Linked DNA regions of Homo sapiens: all the other regions are linked to region 1. Evidence: fine-mapped expression QTL. A gene starts in region 1. Each other region holds a variant in brackets. All regions are shown on one strand. Distances are from middle to middle. Region 1 holds the start of RHOT1 (ras homolog family member T1). Region 2 has its middle 3.4 kb from the start of VILMIR. Region 3 overlaps RHOT1 (ras homolog family member T1). Region 4 overlaps SUZ12 (SUZ12 polycomb repressive complex 2 subunit).

Region 1 (5,000 bases):
TGCTCCACGGAAAATGGAGGAAAGCAGGAGCAGAAAGACTGGTTAAGGGAGATATTGCAAAAGTCAAGGCCAAAGCCAGTGGAATTTTGAAGTAGTTTGGCAGAGGTTGCCATGATAATCAGAGTTAGACAAACCAGTTAAAGATCTGCCAGATTCATTTTAAAAGAAGATAACAGTTCCATTTTCTTAAGGAACTTAACTAGTAGAAAACAAATATATCTCAATTTAATTTAAAAAGAAGACTCCATTAAAATGAAAACTATCCTGTTTACTATTATCAATATATATATATATTTTTTGAGACAGAGTCTCACTCTGTCCCCCAGGTTGGAATGCAGTGGTGTGATCTCAGCTCACTGCGACCTCCATCTCCTGGGTGAAAGCCATTCTCCTGCCTTAGCCTCCTGAGTAGCTGGGATTACAGGTGCGTGCTGCCACAGCTGACTAATTATTGTATTGTTAGTAGAGACTGGGTTTCGTCATGTTGGTCAGTTTCCTGGTCTCAAACTCCTGACCTCAGGTGATCTGCCCACTTTGGCCTCCCAAAGTGTTGGGGTTACAGGCATGAGCTACTGTGCCCAGCCATTAAAAATTAATTTTTTCTTTAAGAGACAGTCTTGCTCTGTCACCTGGGCTGAAGTGCAGTGGTGTGATCATGGCTCACTGCAACCTCGATTTTCTGGGTTCAAGCAATTCTCTCATCTCAGCCTCCCCAGTAGCTAGGACTACAGGTGCACACCACCATGCCTAGCTAATAGTGTTGTGGTTTTTTTTTTTTGAGGCGGGGTCTCACTATGTTGCCCAGGCTGGTCTCAAACTCCTGCGTTCAAGCAATCCTCCTGCCTCAGCCTCCCAAAGTGCTGGGATTACAGGAGTGAGCCACTGTGCCCAGCCATTAATATTTAAATTTTTTGTAGAGACAGGATCTCACTACATTGCCCAGGTTGGTCTCAAACTCCTTGGCCTCAAGTGATCCTCCTGCCTCAGCCTCCCAGAGTGCTTGGAATACAGGTATAAGCCACCTCACCCAGCTGTGTGGGAGCATTATTAAAGGTTTTTTTTCAGACAGAGTCTTGCTCTGCTGCCCAGGCTGGCATGTCTCAGCTCACTGCAACCTCCTCCTCCAGGGTTCAAGTGATTCTCCTGCTTCAGCCTCCAGAGTAGCTGGGACTACAGGTGTGTGCCACCACACCCGGCTAATTTTCGTATTTTTAGTAGAGACGGGGTTTCACCATGTTGGCCAGGCTCGTCTCGAACTCCTGACCTCAAGTGATCTGCCTGCCTTGGCCTCCCAAAGTGCTGGGATTACAGGCATGAGCCACAGTGCCTGTAATCCCAGGCACTGCACTCCAGCCTCGGTGACAGAGCGAGACTCTGTCTCAAAACAACAACAACAACAAACTATTTCATCATATATTTAAGGATCAGTTTTTTAAGCAAGTCGTCTACTCACTTTCCCTACCTTGCTCCAAAAGCATAAGCATGAATTATATGTTAAATAACACCTTCCTGAACCTTGTCAAGGAAGTCCATGAAAAATACAGATTAAGATATAGTTATAAATAAAAATAAAAATTTACAACTGCAAATCAAAAAGTAAACTATGGCTGGCTAAGCTTACTCCTAAATTCTAATTCTAAAGGAAGATTTCTCCAAACAGCAGGTGGATGAAATTTCAATGAACTCAAAGAACACTACAGAAGAGGGTAAAAACGTGTTAACTTTCTTCCTTGGGATTCCATCACGGTGACCCTGAGGGGTTACCAAGAATGAAATAATGGTTTAAAACAGAATGCTTCGAAACAGCAATGGCAGACTATTAACGAATGTATTAACTCTTTAAAACAAACAATCCAGTTATCCCTGGCCCACTTTCTTATTTTAGTCCTAGCAACTGAGTTACATAACTTGCAGAGTGAAATCAAGAAGTCCCCGCTGTTGCGTCCTCATGTCAGTGAACAGAGGGAACTCTCCTTTATTATATTTTCAAAAGGTGAAATGTATGAAATTTCTGGGTGGGGGGAGATATCAAATGTCTGTGTGCCTGTGGTTATTAATAAGTTAACTACGAAGTAACTATGGAATAAATAATGCTTAAAAAGAGGGCAAAGATTACGCTTTAGGGTAACAACAATTGGACCCTCCCCAGATAATTCTAATTCATTGAGCGCTTGCATAACTCGAAGTTGAGTAAAAATTTTTGATGAAATATCTCGAGTACGAGGAGTTAGTCCAATGCAAAGTACAAGTACTGCTAAAAAGGATCCGGCCCTTTCCACTACTCATATCTTAATGTCAATACATAGAGAGAGTGAAGACTGCGAGTGCCAAAAAAATGCAGAAACCTGACCTTGCCCACAAGTCGAATAGTTCTGCACCCCTCCCCCAGCTTCCCCGGGAGCCGGTTCACGCAATCCCTATTGGTCAGTCTGCTTATTCCAGCACCTGCCTGGCAGTGATAAGGGAATCTCCAGAAGACAAGAAGGTCTGAAAGGAGGCGGCCTGGGAAACTGTGAGGCCCAGAAGGACAGGGTTCGAAGAGGAAAAGGAGGAGAGAAGCTTCGGAGGGATGAGGTCGGGCGGTTAGGGCTAATAGGGACATGGCTTGGGAGGACGGCTGGGGAACAGGGAAAGGAGATCTCTGGAGGGCCCAGGTGAGGTGACAGGGTGAGGGCCGCCGGCGGCCAGCCAAAAGAGAAGAGTGAAGGGGCTGGAAGGCCTAGGAACGCGGAGAAAGGCGAGCGGAGCTGTGAGGCGCGAGAAGGGCCGGGGCTGCAAAGGTTGGGGCTGCAGGGGCGACAGGGGCGACAGGGGCTGCAGGGGCAGGGAGGGCAGGGACTCAGGGGCCGGCCAGAGGGTGCGGACTCACGTTCTCCCACCAGCAGGATCCGCACGTCTTTCTTCATGTCGGCGGCTCTCGGGGGCCGGCCTCCGCCCGCACGCACGGAGTGGACTCCTCTCACCAGGAGCACCCACCCCACGGCGCCACCTGCCAGCCTCTTCGGCCGCCGGGGCCCGCCGCGCCGCCCCCTCAGTTGCTTCCCCGCAAGAGAGCCGGGACAGCGCCAGCTCCGCCTCCTCCGGCCCAGCGGGCTGTGGCGGCGGCGGCGGCGGCGGCGGCGGCGGCGGCGGCGGCGGCGGCGGCGGGGACGACGGCACGCGGCGAGGGACACGCGCTTTCGGAACGCGAACGCGCTCTGCGCCGGAACAGCGCTCCCGCTGTCAGGCCGCCGCAGCGCAGGCCCAGGGAGCCTCGCCCACCCTCCTTTGGGCACCGCGACCCCGGAGACACTTGGGCCAGGAATTTGAATGGCGGATTCCCTGGTTTAACCCCGTTTATTTTATAGATAGGGACAGAAATTCCCTGTTCAAAGTCACATAGCTAGAGCTTGGCAGTGACTCAGAGCAGGGATCTTCTCACCAGACCATAAACTCCGGGAGGGCAGCGATCAGCTTGCATGGTTTTCAGCTGCGTCCCCACGTTATTGGATAGGGCCGTCAGAAAATGCTTGATCGAGTAGGGCGACTGGCTCCCAGGATCCGGCGCTTTCCACTCCCCAAAGCCCGTCACCCTAGTTGCTTTTGCCTCTGATGCTTATAAAATACGATTATAAGATTCGTTTTTACGCTGTGTGAACAAGACTCCTTTCTTTATAACCAAACTAAGTGACTTTTTTTCTGTCTATGTAGTTTATTTTATGGCAGGGTTTTCGGACACTCTTCTTTACTCAGGCTTACCCAGCGTAATGCTAGACACGGAGGTGGCACTCGATAATAAACTCTAGATGATTTTTCTAACATTGCCTTAATTTTCTCGTGACCCTCTCCATCTGGAGGAATTTGTTGTTACATGCTTAATGTTTGGTACACAATGGCAAATATATATATATACATACGCGTGCGAATATATATCACATCCCTAATACTTGGCACACAGTGGGAAATATAAAATACATAAATTAATGAGGAAGCACTATCTGTGCATAATGTACATTTTTTCTATCTTAAATATTACACAATAAACACTTAAAGGGAATGAAATGTGCGTAATACCAACTTCCCTTTCTCCTAGGAGAAGTCATGTGGTCTCTTGCAGCAGTTAAGAGTTGCTGGCAAATTTCCTGGGTTTGAATCTAGGCTCCACATAATAGCTCTGTGATCTCGACTAAGTGCTTTTATTTTTACTTCCCTCAGCCACTGTTCCTTCTTCTGTAGCATGGAAATAATGATGATAATACCTTCCTCTTGAGATGGTTGTGAGTAATAAATACTATAATACTTGTCAAGCATTTGGTACAGTGCCAGACTCAGAGCGTGTGCTCTACTGATCTCAGCTATCATTATTATATTAAAAAGTCACTAAAAAGTTGTAATCCACAGATTTTTTGTTTTGTTTTGGTTTTGTTTTGAGACGGAGTCTCGCTCTGTCGCCCAGGCTGGAGTGCAGTGGCGCAATCTCGGCTCACTGCAAGCTCCGCCTCCTGGGTTCACGCCATTCTCCTGCCTCAGCCTCCCGAGTAGCTGGGACTACAGGCGTCCGCCACCACGCCCGGCTAATTTTTTTTTTTTTTTTTTTGTATTTTTAGTGGAGACGGGGTTTCACCGTGTTAGCCAGGATGGTCTCGATCTCCTGACGTCGTGATCCGCCTGCCTTGGCCTCCCAAAGTGCTGGGATTACAGGCGTGAGCCACCGCGCCCAGCCTAATCCACAGGTTTTGAGGCAAATATGTTGTTGTGTTTACTGCAGAATTTCACCATCTTAGTTATTTGATGTCCATAAGGAGCACAGGGGAGAAAGCCCTTTCAAAAACAACTCTATCCCTGTCCGTGTTAGGAAAAAGAGGGAGATGGGAAAGACATACTCCTTGTTCACTGAGAGATAATGAAGTCGCGTTCCTGGGTAGATGTAAATAAGGTGCTTTCATCTCCCTCCTCCCCCCACACCTCAATGAGTGGAAATGTGAAATTCAGGAGGCTTGGTTACCTGATCTTTCAGGGAA
Region 2 (5,614 bases), 64 kb after region 1:
ACAGCCTCCTGGCTTCTGCCCTGGCCTCCATCATCCGTTTGTTTCGGCCTCAAGTGATCTGTTCGTCTCGGCCTCCCAAAGTGCTGGGATTACAGGTGTGAGCCACCGCGCCTGGCCAAAATTTATAAACCTTGACTCTTATTCTCGGTGTGTCCCACAATACCTGGCACCTACTAGATTTTCAAATATGCGTTGAATGAGTGAATTAAATAAATAATGTTGTGACTATGTAAGGATATAACTGATGTAAAGTTCTTGGCAGGTCGCCAGCATTCAATAAACCAAGATGCTGGGCACAGTGGCTCATGTCTGTAACCCCAGCATGTTGGGAGGCCGAGGCAGGAGGATAGTTTGAACCAGGGGTTCAAGAGCAGCCTGGACAACAAAGCGAGACCCTGTCTCTACAAAAATTACAAAAAAATTAGCTGGGTGTGATAGTGTATACCTGTGGTCCCAGCTATTCGGGAGGCTGAGGTGGGAGGATCACTTGAGCCTGGGAGGTTGAGGCTACAGTGAGCCAGGTTCCTGCGATCCAGCCTGAGTTACTGAGTGAGACCCTGTCCACATCCCCACAAGAGGTAAACTTATGTTCATCAAAAGACATGTACAAGGATGTTCATAGCTGCTTTATCTACAATAACCATTCACTGCAAACAACTCAAATATCTATCAGCAGTAAGATAAATACATTGTGATACATCTCCACAATGGAATATTATACAACAAAGAAAAAGAACAGGAAAACAGACATGACAATAGATTCTCACAGATACAATGTTGCGTAAAAGCAAGATGCCAAACCATGTATTTCCACTTACACAAAGTTCAGGGGTAGGCAAAACTAATCTATGATGAAAATGTCAAATTGGAGGATATTGACTGAGAAAGAGCATTTGGGAATTTCCTGGAGGGACAAATATGTTCTTCTGGTCTGCATGGTGGATACACAGGTATACATGTGTAGAAATTCACCACGCTGAAATTTATGATTTGTGCACTTTACCATATTCATTAAAAAAAAAAAAAAAGAGGAAGCCAGTCATGATGGCTTGTGCCTGTAATCCAAGCTACTCAGGAGGCTGAGATGGGAGGATCGCTTGAGGCCAAGAGCTCGAGACCAGCCTGGGTGATGCAGTGAGCCCTTGTCTTCATTAAAAAAAAAAAAAAAAAAAAAAAAGATTAGGCTGGGTGCAGTGGCTCACGCCTGTAATCCCAGCACTTTGGGAGGCCAAGGTGAGCAGATCACTTGAGGTCATGAGTTCGAGACTTGCCTTGAAAACATGGTGAAGCCCCGTTTCTACTAAAAATATAAAAATTAGCCAGGTTAGGCCAGGGACGGTGGCTTACGCCTGTAATCCCAGCACTTTGGAGGCCGAGGTGGGCGGATTATAAGGTCAGGAGTTTGAGACCAGCCAATATGGTGAAACCCCGTCTCTACTAAAAATACAAAAATTAGTCAGGTGTGGTGGGTGCCTGCCTGTAGTCCCAGCTACTCAGGAAGCTGAGGCAGAAGAATTGCTTGAACCTGGGAAGCAGAGGTTCCAGTGAGCTGAGATCGCGCCATTGCACTCCAGCCTGGGACACAGAGGAAAACTCCGTCTCAAAAAGAAAAAAAAATTAGCCAGGCATTGTGGAGGGTACCTGTAATCGCAACTCCTCAGGAGGCTGAGGCAGGAGAATCACTTGAACCTGGGAGGTGGAGGTTGCAGTGAGCCGAGGTCACACCACTCCACTACAGCCTGGGTGACAGAGCGAGACTCCATCTCAAAATAATAATCATAATAATAATGAAAAGAAATGATGCTGGATGCAGTGGCTCATGCCTATAATCCCAACACTTTGGGAGGCCAAAGCAGGAGGATCACTTGAAGCCAGGAGTTTGAGACCAGCCTGGGCAATGTAGCAGGACCCTATCTCTACAAAAACATATATATTTTAAAAATTAGCCAGGTGTGGTGGTGCATGTCTGTAGTCCCAGCTACTCGCATGGCTGAGGCAGGAGGATCACCTCAGTCCAGTAATTTGAGGCTGCAGTAAGGTGTGGTCATGCCACTGGACTCCAGCCTGGGCAATAGAGCAAGACCCTATCGCAAAATAAAAGAATAAAATATACAATAAAAATAAAACAGAGCAAAGAGAATGTCCCCTAGAGCCATGTGTGATCCATACGCTTTGTGAATCCTGACACCTCCTCTCCTTCGAGGTTGTACAACTGTCTTCCAAAGTTGGAAAAAAAATGTTTAAACCTGCCCAGATTCAGGAGGGAGGTCCCAGGGGTACCAGTGCCCTCCCCCATTTCCCAAGGACAACAAGGGTTTCCAGCCTCACTTGGCCTTGGGGTGTGCGCAGCTCGGTGTGAGGGCCAGTGGTTGATCTTGAAGTTTCTTTCCTACTCCCTCATCCGTTTCCTGCCCAAGCTGTGGTTCCAGCTGACTCCCCTATCAGAGGCTGCGAGTGAGTTCAGTTGTTATGGCAACGGGGCTGC[G/A]GAGATCCCCAGGAACCTGCTGGTCCGCCTCATTGCCTCACCGTATGGGGAGCTGCTTTTCCCCTTAAAAATGAAACGGGAGTGGGATGGGGGAGGAACCCCCTTCTTCTGCTCTGGAATGAAATGCCTCCCTCACCTGCTTTGTCGCAAACCCCCGGTTTGGAGAGGAGGGTCTGGATGGGACCCAGACTGTGGATAAGGATGGAGGGAGGAGAACTCCTGCTCCCTGGGTTTTAGCAGCCTTCCCAGGTCTCACAGAACACGAGGAACACGGTCTTTCTCCAGCTCCAACTTTTCTCATCTGTTCATTCATTTTTTCCACAGGAGGCATGAGGAGGTGAGAGATGGAAAGAATGCTGTCTGTCATTTGGAGTCAGAAGGAAAAGAAGGTTGAGGGTCTGCCAGCTCTGCTCTAGTGGTTTTTTCCTGTTTCACCTTTTACAAAATCGAGATAATCGTTTCTACTTGGTAGCGATATTGTGAGGTGTAAAATGGATTAATACATGCAAAATGCTTAAAGCAACTTCTGGCATACGGTGATCTCTCAACCAATCCATTGTTATTTTATTATTATTATTTTTTTGAGACAGAGTTTTGCTCTTGTTACCCAGGCTGGAGTGCAATGGTGTGATCTCGGCTCACTGCAACCTCTGTTTCCCGGATTCAAGCGATTTTCCTCCTCCTGAGTAGCTGAGATTACAGGTGCCCACCACCACACCCAGCTAATTTTTTGTTTTCTTTTGTTTTTTGTTTTTTTTTTTTGAGACAGAGTCTCACTCTGTTGCCCAGGCTGGAGTGCAGTGGCACGATCTCGGCTCACTGCAAGCTCTGCCTCCCGGGTTCACACCATTCTCCTGCCTCAGCCTCCCCAGTAGCTGGGACTACAGGCGCCCGCCACCACGCCTGGCTAATTTTTTGTATTTTTAGTAGAGATGGGGTTTCACCATGTTAGCCAGGATGGTCTCCATCTCCTGACCTCGTGATCCACCCACCTTGGCCTCCCAAAGTGCTGGGATTACAGGCGTGAGCCACCGCGCCTGGCCAATTTTTTGTATTTTTAGTAGAGATAAGGTTTCACCGTGTCAGCCAGGCTGGTCTCAAACTCCTGACCTCAGGTGATCCACCCGCCTCAGCCTCCCAAAGTGCTGGAATTACAGGTGTGAACCACCGTGCCCAGCAGGGAGACCCTGTTTCTACAAGAAAAAATTTACTGTGATCCCAGCACATTGGAAGGCCAAGGTGGGAGGATCACTTGAGCCTAGGAGTTCAAGTCCAGCCTGGGCAACATACATAGGGAGAACCCATCTCTTAAAAAAAGAAAAAAAGGAGAAATAATTACATGTAACCCTACCAGCAGTTTTGTGGGATTGCTATGATCATACCCATTTCACAGATTAGGTAACTGAGGTTTTAGTGCCCTGGAGATGAAGGCATTCTCTAGTCTCCCAGAAGCCCTGAACTCTTGAACAACCCCAAATGCTAAACTCAGCAGTAAAATGGCTGGTGGCTCCTACCTGAGGGTTCACAGAGGGGCTGCCTGTGCTTGCCTCCCAGCCCTTCCTTCCTGCATCCCAGCCCTTTCTTCCTGTGTATTAAGAGGGTTGCAGCTACTTCAGGGCCAGTGTCTCCACGAGTCATCATGACGGCTTCCTGATCATGGCTCTCTCTCTCTCTTTTTTTTTTTAAGACGAAGTCTCGCTCTGTCGCCCAGGCTGGAGTGCAGTGGCATGATCTCGGCTCACTGCAAGCTCCGCCTCCTGGGTTCACGCCATTCTCCTGCCTCAGCCTCCCTAGTAGCTGGGACTAGAGGCATGCACCACCACGCTCAGCTAATTTTTTTTGTATTTTTAGTATAGACGGGGTTTTACTATGTTAGCCAGGATGGTCTTGATCTCCTGATCTCGTGATCAGCCCGCCTCAGCCTCCCAAAATGCTGGGATTACAGACATGAGCCACCGCACCCGGCCGCCTCTCTCTTTTACTAACCACAGGGATTCAGAAAATTCTTCCTCCCTCGGGGCAAAAAAAAAAAAATAAATAAAAAATCATATATTATAGATGAACTGATGTAGTTTGGATCTGTTTCCCTGCCAAATCTCATGTTGAACTGTAATTCCCAATATTGGAGGTGGGGCTTGGTGGGAGGGGATTGGATCATGGGGGCGGATCCCTCATGAATGGCTTAGCGCCATCTCTTTGGTGCTGTCCACACAATTGTGAGTGAGTTCTTTGGAGAATTAGTTGTTTTGTTTGTTTGTTTTTTGAGATGGATTCTCGCTCTGTCACCCAGGCTGGAGTGCAGTGGTGCAATCTCAGCTCACTGCAACCTCCACCTCCTGGATTCAAGCGATTCTCCTGCCTCAGCCGCCTGAGTAGCCAGGATTATAGGCCTGCGCCACTGCGGCCAGCTAATTTTTTTGTATTTTTAGTAAAGATGGGGTTTCACTGTGTTGGTCAGGGTGGTCTCGAACTCCTGACCTCAAATGATCCACCTGCCTTGGCCTCCCAAAGTGTTGGGATTACAGGCTTGAGCCACTGCACCTGGCCTGGAGATCTGGTTGTTTAAGTGTGTGGCACCTCCCCTCCACCCCACTCTCTCTCCTGCTCCTGCTTTTGCCATGTGAAGTTCCTGCTTCACCTTCTGCCATGAGTTAAAGCTCCCTGAGATCTTTCCAGAAGCCAAGCAGATGCCAGCACTGTGCTTGTACAGCCCGCAGAACTGTGAGTCAATTAAGCCTCTTTTCTTTATAAATTACCCATTCTAGCCAGGTGTGATGGCTCACGTCTGTAATCCCAGCACTTTGGGAGGCCGAGGCAGGCGGATCACTTGAGGTTAGAAGTTTGAGACCAGCCTGGCAAACATGGTGAAACCCCATCTTTACTAAAAATACAAAAATTAGCCCGGTGTGGTGGCACACACTTGTAATCACAGCTACTTGGGAGGCTGAGGCAGGAGAATCGCTTGAACCCGGGAGGAGGAGGTTGCAGTGAGCCAAGATCGTGCCACTGCACTCTAGCCTAGGTAACAGAGTGAGACTCCATCTCAAATAAAATAAAATAAAGTGAAATAAAGTAAAATAAATAAAATAAAATGTACCCATTCTTTGATATTTCTTTACAGCAAATTTA
Region 3 (5,000 bases), 22 kb before region 1:
ATTCTGTAAACAAATGTTTCCTTTTCTTTTTTTCCTTAGAGATGGGGGTCTCTGTCACCTAGGCTAGAGCATAGTGGGATGATCATAGCTCACTGTAGCCTCAAACTCCTGGGCTCAAGCAATCCTCCTGCCTTAGCCTCCTGAGTAGCTAGTATCACAGGCCACGCCACCACATCCAGTGAATTTTTTAATTCTTTGTACGGACAGGGTCTCACCATGTTGCCCAAGATGATCTTAAACTCCTGGCCTCAAGCAATCCTCCTGTCTTGGTCTCCCAAGTTGCTGGTATTATACGACCCAACCAAGATTTTCGATGTAGATGAAACAGCCTTGTATCAGAAGAAGATGCCATCGATAGCTAGAGAGCAGATATCAATGCCTGGTTTCAATGCTTAAAAGGATAGGCTGACTCTTGTTAGGGGCTAATGCAGGTTGCTGCCTTTAAGTGGAAGCCAGTGGTCATTTGCCAGTCTGAAAATCCTAGGGCCCTTAAAAATTATGCTCAATCTGGCCGGGCATGGTGGCTCACGCCTGTAATCCCGGCTACTTGGGAGGCTCCACTAAAAATACAAAAATTAACCGGGCATTGTGGTGGGTGCCTGTAGTCCCAGCTACTCGGGAGGCTGAGGCAGGAGAATGGTGTGAACCCGGGAGGCGGAGCTTGCAGTGAGCCAAGATTGCACTACTGCACTCTAGCCTGGGCGACAGAGCGAGACTCCGTCTCAAAAAAAAAAAAAAAATTATGCTCAATCTATTCTGCCTGTGCTCTATAAATGGAATAACAAAGCCTGGATGACAGCACATTTGTTTACAGAATGGTTTATTGAATATTTTAAGGCTACTGTTGAGACCTACTCCTCAAAAAAAAAAAAGATTCCTTTCAAAATATTACTGCTCACTGACAATACACCTGGTCACCCAAGAGCTCAGATGGAGACGTACAAGGAGATTATTTTCGTGCCTGCTAACATGACATCCAGTCTGCAGTCCATGGTTCAAGGAGTAATTATAACTTTCAAGCCTTATTATTTAGGCTTACTATTTACATTGTGTAAGCCTATATATAGCTGCCATAGATAGTGATTCCTCTGATGGATGTGGGCAAAGTAAACTAAAAACCTTCTGGAAATAATTCACCATTCTAGATGCCATCAAGAACATTTGTGATTCACAGGAGATCAAAGTAACATTATCAGGAGTTTGGAAGAAGTTGGTTCCAACCCTCACATGACTTTGAGGGATTCAAGCCTCAATGAAGGAATTGCAGATATGGTGGAAATAGCAAGAAAAGAGCTAGAATTAGAAGTGAAGCCTAAAAATGTGACTAAATTGCTGCAATCTCATAATAAAACTTGAACAGATGAAGAGTTTATTATGGATGAGCAAAGAATGTGGTTTCTTGAGACAGAATCTACTGGTGAAGATGCTGTGAGCAATATTGAAATGACAACAAAGGACCTGGAATATTACATAAACTTAGTTGATAAAGCAGCAGTAGGGTTTGAGAGGATTGACTCCAATTCTGAAAGAAGTTCCACTGTGGGTAAAATGCTATTAAATGGCATCACATGCTACAGAGAAATCTTTAGTGAAAGGAAGAGTCAATCGATGCAGCAAATGTCATAGTTGTCTTATTTTAAGAAATTGCCACAGCCACCCCAGCCTTCAGGAATCACCACCCTAATCAGTCAGCAGCCATCAACCCTGAGGCAAGACTCTCCACCAGCAAAAAGGTTACAACTCACTGAAGGCTCAGATGATCATTAGCATTTTTTGACAATAAAGTATTTTTAAATTAAGGTATGTACATTTTTTAGATATTACATTACACACTTAACAGACTACAGTATAGTATGAACATAACTTTTTTTTTTTTTTTTTGAGATAGAGTCTCGCTGTGTCACCCAAGCTGGAGTGCAGTGGCACAATCTTGGCTCACTGCAACCTCTGCCACCCAGGTTCAAGCGATTTTCATGTCTCAGCCACTCGAGTGGCTGAGATTCCAAGCATGTGCCACCATGCCTGGCTACATTTTTTTGTATTTTTAGTAGAGATGGGGTTTCGCCTTGTTGGCCATGCAGGTCTCAAACTCCTGGTCTCAGGAGATCCGCCCATCTTGGCATCCCAAAATGCTGGGATTACAGGCATGCACCACCACACCTAGCCTATAAACATAACTTTTATATGCACTGGGAAAACAAAAAAATTTGTGAGCCACTTTACTGTGGTAGTGTAGAACCAAACTCACAGTTTCTCTGAGGTATGCCTGTTTACTTATTTATATATGAGTATAGACTAACAGATTCCTCTATTATCCTATTATTTTATGGTTTGTCATTATTTGGAGGTTCAAGTTCCATTTTACTTCTAAAAATGATATTTATGCAGGTATAAGTCAACATGTGCAATATGATCCCATTTTAAAGATAAATATGTATGTGCATAGAAAAAACCACTGGATGAATATATTATACTAAAGTGGTTATCTTGGAAAATAAACACAAAAATTTTTTAACTAGAAAAGATCAGTAACTTTTTTTTTTTTTGAGACAGGGTCTCTCTCGATCACTCAGGCTGGAGTGCAGTGGCACGATCTTGGTTCACTGCAACTTCCACCTCCCAGGTTCAAGCCATTCTTGTGCCTCAGTCTCTTGAGTAGCTGGGATTACAGGCATGTGCCACCATGCCTGGCTAATTTTTGTATT[GT/T]TTTTTTTTTTTTTTTTTTTTTTTTTGAGACGGAGTCTTGCTCTGTCGCCCAGGCTGGAGTGCAGTGGCGCGATTTCGGCTTATTGCAAGCTCTGCCTCTTGGGTTTACGCCATTCTCCTGCCTCAGCCTCCCAAGTAGCTGGGACTACAGGCACCTGCCACCGTGCCCAGCTAATTTTTTGTATTTTTAGTAGAGATGGGGTTTCACCGTGTTAGCCAGGATGGTCTCGATCTGACCTTGTGATCCGCCTGCCTTGGCCTCCCAAAGTGCTGGGATTACAGGCGTAAGCCACCACGCCCACGCCCGGCCCTGTTTTTTTTGTTTTGTTTTGTTTTTTTGTTTTTTGTTTTGCTGTTGTTGTTGTTAGTAGAGAGGGAGTTTCACCATGTTGGCCAGGCTGGTCTTGAACTCCTGGCCTGAAGTGATCCACCTGCCTTGGCCTCCCTAAGTGCTGGGATTATAGGTGTGAGCCACCACACCCAGCTTATTTATTTTTGAGACAGGGTATCACTCTGTCACCCAGGCTGAAGTGCAGTGGTGCCATCACAGACCACTGAAGTTTTGACCTTCCAGGATCAACGATCCTCCCACCTCAGCCTCCTGGGTAGCTGGGACTACAGGTGTGCACTACTATATACCTGGCTAATTTTTTGTATTTTTAGTAGAGACAGGGTTTCACTATGTTGCCCAGGCTGGTCTTGAATTCCTGGGCTCGACATCCATCTGCCTCAGCCTCCCAAAGTGCTGGGACTACAGGTGTAAGCCACCACATTCAGCCTCAGTAAGTATTATTTTTAAGGTAATTTTTGGTATTAAAAATTGGGATGTTAGTCTGGGCACGGTGGCTCACGCCTGTAATTCTAGCACTTTGGGAGGCCGAGGTGGGCGGATCATGAGGTCAAGAGATCAAGACCATCCTGGTCAACATGGTGAAACCCCGTCTCTACTAAAAATACAAAAATTAGCTGAGCATGGTGGCACACGCCTGTAGTCCCAGCTGCTTGGAAGGCTGAGGCAGAAGAATCGCTTGAACCCGGGAGGCAGAGGCTGCAGTGAGCCAAGACGGCGCCACTGCACTCCAGCCTGGCGACGGAGCGACACTCCGTCTAAAAAAAGAAAAAAATTGGGATGTTAAAGATGACAACTAAAATTTACCCAAAAGTTGACAGGTTAAATGCATTCTTTCATCCTTTGATAAATATTTTTTAAGCAATTCTATAAGCCAGGCACTATTCTTTTCGCGCAGTGGCGCGATCTTGGTTCACTGCAACCTCCGCCTCCTGGATTCAAGCAATTCTCCTGCCTCAGCCTCCCTAGTAGCTGGGACTACAGGTGCACACCACCACGTCTGGCTAATTTTTGTATTTTTATTAGAGACAGGGTTTCACCATGTTGGCCAGGATGGTCTCGATCTCTTGACCTCGTGATCCACCTGCCTCGGCCTCCCAAAGTGCTGGGATTACAGGGGTGAGCCACCACGCCTGGCCACCAGGCACTATTCTTCATCCTGGGGATACCACTGATCATGGCCACTAGGTCCTCTCTACTTTTACATTACATTGTAACAGACTTAGATAGTTATCACCAATATAGTTAACATTCTTTGTTTTTTTTTTCCCTTTCTTTTTTTTTGAGATGGAGTCTTGCTCTGTCACCCAAGCTGGAGTGCAGTGGCACGATCTCAGCTCACTGCAACCTCTGCCTCCCAGATTATAGTGATTCTCCTGCCTCAGCCTCCAAAGTAGCTGGGATTACAGGTGCGCACCATCACGCTGGCTAATTTTTGTATTTTTAGTAGAGACGGGATTTTACCATATTGGCCAGGCTGGTCTCGAACTCTTGACCTTGTGATCTGCCCACCTTGGCCTCCCAAAATGCTGGGATTACCAGGCGTGAGCCACCACACCCAGCCTTGGTTAACATTCTTTTTACATATCTGGATAAAAAGAAAAATTTTAAAAATGTACCATCTCCGATTCATCATTCTTCTGCATTTAGCAGTCAAGATCTGTCAAATTTTCCTTTGAAATTTTTAACATTCATTCCTTCCCTCACTGTTCCCCTATTTCCCTAATTATGGTACTTTTATTGAAAAATCTCCCAGTCCCAAATTTCCTATCCCTTTCTCCAGTCTCTCTCCTCATTAATCTACCAACAATATAAATGCTGGTCCATTTTTCTTACATGCTCTTTTCATTTTCTGACTCACCTGATCAAACGCTTTCTTTGACTCTCAATTATCTACCACACCAAAATGAAATCATTCTACTGGCCTTTGAATATCATAAATAAT
Region 4 (5,000 bases), 190 kb after region 1:
CCTGTAATCCCAGCTACTCAGGAGGCTGAGGCAGGAGAATCGCTTAAACCTGGGAGGCGGAGGTTGCAGTGAGCCGAGATTGCATCACTGCACTCCAACCTGGGCAACAGAGCGAGACCCCGTCTCAAAAAAAAAAAGTAAACACTCTGATATGTACTAGAATAAAGTGTACCAATGATCCCTTCCATAGGTGGTTTGTTCCAAGGAAAAGGGCAAAGTTTTCTCTCCCTTCCCTCTGCCCTCTCTTGCAGCTACTTTGTCCACATCTTAATTGGTTAGGCTGGACCAGATGAACGGGAGGAAAAGAAACACGTAAGGTTGGTCAGGACTATTTGGTTTTAGGCCACAAAAAAATCTAGTTTACATGACCAGAATAAGATATAAGAAACTTAGTTCATCTATGTCATGTGCTCCCTGCATCTTCTCAGGAAGTAAGACACATGATAACAAGAAATCAGGTAAAGAATTTGAAATTTTGAGATGCAAATTTCAGCATTCCAAGCACAAACATCTGACAGTTCTGATACAGTCTACAGAAAATGATGCTAAGCTAATTCATAAGAGACTAACACTTTGAAATCTAATTCAAGGAAGAGCCTCCCATTTTAAGAACAGCCAGATCCCACAGAGGAAGTAATTTTTATGACAAGAGGAGACCAAGATTAGTGCCTCTAATTTATATACATGAATCTGCTAGCAGCAGGAATAAGGCTTCATTTTAAGGGCATGGCAGTATTACCTCAAAACAGGACAAGTCTGATAATCTACTTGGTTTCTATAGTTAGATGTTAGCTATTCAACTTTTGTTATATACATTTCATCCTATGATATGTAAAGCTGAGAAACTCGTGTCTACATCAAGTCCAATATTCTGAAATCCAGGATCTCAAAATATAGGGGTTAGACGCACTTTCTAATGAGAAGATAAAGCTCAATGGTGGATGATGTGTGTGTGTCTATTAATTACAAATGGATCACTCTGCAGAAGTACTGTGAAGCAAACAAAGGAATTACTACAAAACCAAAAATTATACAAGGAATATTTTTACAATTTGTTCTTGAATATTCAAATTTTTAAGAATCAGATATGCTTAAGTGGCAACTGATGAGGCACCTTCAAGAGTAAGTATGCAAAAAGAAATGTATAGCCAGGTTCTGAAAAAAGAACAAAAACTCAAGACTGAAAAGATGACAATTTGAAAACAACTTCAAAGCTTATAGTCAAGGCAAAGTGTATTAAAAAAAAGAAAGGGAAAACATCAGATCTTATTAATGGTGGGAAAGACACATAACCAACCTAAGAGGTAGTCTACAGATTTTATTTATTTATTTATTTTGAGACGGAGTCTCCCTCTGTCACCCAGGCTGGAGTGCAGTGGTGCGATATCTGCTCACTGCAACCTCCACCTCCTGGGTTCAAGCAATTCTCCTGCCTCAGCCTCCCGAGTAGATGAAATTACAGGTGCACGCCACCATGCCCAGCTAATGTTTTATTTATTTATTTATTTTTGAGACAGAGTTTCACTCTGTAGCCAGGATGGAGTGCAGCGGTGTAATCTCGGCTCACTGCAACCTCTGCCTCCCAGGTTTAAGCAATTCTCCTGCCTCAGCCTCCCGAGTAGCTAGAAATACAGGCACATGCCACCACGCCCAGCTAATTTTTGTATTTTTACTAGAGATGGGGTTTCACCATGTTGGCCAGGATAGTCTCAATCTCTTGACCTCATGATCCGCCTGCCTTGACCTCCCAAAGTGCTGGGATTACAGGCGTGAGCCACCGCACCTGGCCTAATTTTTTGGATTTTTAGTAGAGATGGGGTTTTTACCATGTTGGTCAAGCTGCTCTTGAACTCTTCACCTCAAGTGAACCACCTGCCTTGACCTCCCAAAGTGCTGGGATACAGGCGTGAGTCACCATGCCTGGGCCAGCCTAAAGATTTTAAACTGCAGCTAAATGTACAAAATAGAAAAGTAGGGAAAAATCATTAATACAATAGTTCTCTTAAAAATAATTTAATAGGTCGGATGCAGTGGCTCACGCCTGTAATCCTAACACTTTAGGAGGACAAAGTGGGCAGATCACTTGAACTCAGTAGTTCGAGGTCACACTGGGCAAAACGGTGAAACCTCATCTCTACAAAAAGTACAAAAGGGGCTGGGCGCGGTGGCTCACGCCTGCAATCCCGGCACTTTGGGAGGCTGAGGTGGGCGGATCATGAGGTCAGGAGATTGAGACATCCTGGCTAACACGGTGAAACCCCATCTCTACTAAAAATACAAAAAAATTAGCCGGGCGTGATGGCAGGCGCCTGTAGTCCCAGCTACTCGGGAGGCTGAGGCAGGAGAATGGCATGAACCCGGGAGGCAGAACTTGCAGTGAGCGGAGATTGCGCCACTGAACTCCAGCCTGGGCGACAGAGCAAGACTCTGTCTCAAAAAAAAAAAAAAAAAAAAAAAAAGGACAAAAGGTGAGCCA[G/C]GGCCAGGTGCAGTGGCTCACACCTGTAATCCAGGGCCAGGTGCAGTGGCTCACACCTGTAATCCAGCACTTTGGGAGGCTGAGGCTGGTGGATAACTTGAGGTCAAGAATTCGAGGCCAGCCTGGCCAACATGGTGAAACTCCATCTCTGCTAAAAATACAAAAACTGGCTGGGGGCAGTGGCTTACGGCTACAATCCCAGCACTTTGGGAGGCTGAGGCGAGCAGATCACCTGAAGTCAGGAATTCGAGACCAGTCTGCTCTACCTGTTGAAACCCTGTCTCTAAAAATGCAAAAAAATTAGCTAGGCGTGGTGGCAGGCACCTGTAATCCCGGCTACTCGGGAGGCTGAGGCAGAAGAATCGCTTGAGCCTGGGAGGTGGAAGTTGCAGTGAGCCAAGATCACGCCACTGTACTCCAGCCTGGGCAAGAAGAAAGAAACTCCGTACCAAAAAAAAAAAGAATACAAAAATTATCCGGGTATGGTGGTGCATGTCTGTAATCCCAGCTACTCAGGAAGCTGAGACAGGAGAATTACATGAACTCAGGAGGTGGAGGTTGTAGTGAGCAGAGATCACACCACTGCACTACAGCCTGGGCAACAAAGCAAGACTCCATCTGGAAGAGAAAAAAAAAAAACAAAAAATGTAGCCAGGTAGTCCCAGCTAATCAAGAGGCTGAGGAGAGAGGATCTCTTCATCCCAGGAGGTTGAGACTGCAGTGAGCCAGTGATCGTGCCACTGCACTCCAGCCCGGGCAATGGAGCAAGACTCTATCTCAAAAATAATAATAGTAATAAAATAAGGCCAGGCACGCTGGCACAGGCCTGTAATCCAGCACTTTGGGAGGCCGAGGTGGGTGGATCACTTGAGGTCAGGAATTCAAGACCAGATTGGCTAACACAGTGAAAACTAGTCTCTACTAAAAATACAAACATTAGCTGGGCGTGGTGGCACATGCCTATAATCCCAGCTACCTGGGAGGCTGAGGCATGAGAATCCCCTGAACCTGGGAGGCAGAGGTTGCAGTGATCCTAGATGGCGACATTGCTGAGCCATAGAATGAGACTGTCTCAAAAAACCAAAAAATATATATATATACATATATACATATATATACACACACACACGTATATATAGAGAGAAAATAAAATAAATAATTTAAGAATTTAATGACTTTTTTACATACCACAATACTAGGCGAGAAGTGCAATAATAGCAGAGGTGGGTAGGGAGGGTTTTCGGTGATATCTCGAGGTTCTGAAGTGACCGAAGAGCAGCATCCTGCTCCTGGAACTCAGATTACAATCCTAACCATCATATGTACTACTGGTCTAATGTTAGAAGAAACAGAACAATGCAGAAACAATAACTATATATATTTAAAAACTGACTGGGTGCGGCGGCTTATGCCTGTAATCCCAGCAGTTTGGGAGGTTGAGGTGGGCCGATCACGAGGTCAGATCAAGACCATCCTGGCCAACACGGTGAAACCCCATCTCTACTAAAACACAAAACATTAGCCAGGCATGGTGGCACACGCCTGTAGTCCCAGCTACTCCAGAGGCTGAGGCAAGAAAATTGCTTGAACCCAGGAGGCGGAGGTTGCAGTGAGTCGAGACTGCTGGCGACAGAGTGAGACTCCCTCTCAAAAAAATAGTAATACTGGCTGGGCGTGGTGGCTCACGCCTGTAATCCCAGCACTTTGGGAGGCCGAGGCGGACAGATCACGGGGTCAGGAGATTGAGAACATCCTGGCTAACACGGTGAAACCCCATCTCTACTAAAAAATACAAAAAATTAGCCGGGCGTGGTGGCAGGCGCCTATAGTCCTAGCTACTCAGGAGGCTGAGGCAGAAGAATGGCGTGAACCCGGGAAGGCAGAGCTTGCAGTGGGCCGAGATCGCACCACTGCACTCCAGCCTGGGCGACAGAGCGAGACTCCATCTCAAAAACAAAAAATAATAATAATAATAATATACAACTTTAAAAACAACAGGCTGGGTGTAATGGTTCACACTTGTAATCTCAATGCTTTGAGAGGCTGAGACAGGAGGACTGTTAGAGGCCAGAAGTTTGAGACCATCTTGGGCAACATGACAAGACAATGGATCTCTACTGTAAGTTTTTTTGAGATGTAGTCTCACTCTGTCGCCCATGCTGGAGTGCAATGGCGCGATCTCTCCTCCCTGCAACCTCCATCTCCCAGGTTTAAGCGATTCTCCTGCCTCAGCCTCCTGAATAGCTGGGATTACAGGTGCACGACACTCTGCCCAGCTAATTTTTATATTTTTAGTAGAGATGGGGTTTTTACCATGTTGGTCAGGCTGTTCTCAATCTCCTGACCTCGTGATCCGCCCGCCTCGGCCTCCAAAAGTGCTGGGACTACAGGCATGAGTCACCGTGCCCCGGCTACAAAATTTTACAAAATCATCCAGGCATGGTATCTTGCGCCTGTGGTCCTAGGCTATTCGGTAGGCTGAGGCAGGAGGATCATTTGAGGCCAGGAGGTCAAGGGTAAAGTG

The links. PIP is the estimated chance that this variant, and not a neighbour inherited with it, causes the effect.
Region 2: its variant is the best candidate, but not a certain one, in a credible set for the expression of RHOT1 in tibial nerve (GTEx, PIP 0.66).
Region 3: its variant is the best candidate, but not a certain one, in a credible set for the expression of RHOT1 in whole blood (INTERVAL, PIP 0.70).
Region 4: its variant is the best candidate, but not a certain one, in a credible set for the expression of RHOT1 in whole blood (TOPMed, PIP 0.58).

The regions. Positions count from the first base shown.
Region 1 is chr17:32,140,599-32,145,598 of GRCh38, reverse strand. RHOT1 (ras homolog family member T1) reads right to left here and starts at 3,097. Exons shown (of 20, transcript NM_001033566.3): 1 at 2,870-3,097. The coding sequence starts at 2,906. It overlaps LOC105371730 (a long non-coding RNA gene), which reads left to right and starts at 2,464. Exons shown (of 2, transcript NR_136413.1): 1 at 2,464-2,574; 2 at 2,886-4,373. RefSeq lists silencers at 2,817-2,876, 2,907-3,136 and an enhancer at 3,597-3,766.
Region 2 is chr17:32,076,779-32,082,392 of GRCh38, reverse strand. No RefSeq gene overlaps it. Among named protein-coding and RNA genes, the nearest start is that of VILMIR, 3.4 kb to the left of the region's middle. The variant G/A (reference allele first, on the strand shown) is at 2,486.
Region 3 is chr17:32,163,069-32,168,068 of GRCh38, reverse strand. All of the region lies in intron 1 of RHOT1 (ras homolog family member T1), which reads right to left. Among named protein-coding and RNA genes, the nearest start is that of RHOT1, 23 kb to the right of the region's middle. The variant GT/T (reference allele first, on the strand shown) is at 2,706.
Region 4 is chr17:31,955,355-31,960,354 of GRCh38, reverse strand. All of the region lies in intron 4 of SUZ12 (SUZ12 polycomb repressive complex 2 subunit), which reads right to left. Among named protein-coding and RNA genes, the nearest start is that of SUZ12, 21 kb to the right of the region's middle. The variant G/C (reference allele first, on the strand shown) is at 2,477.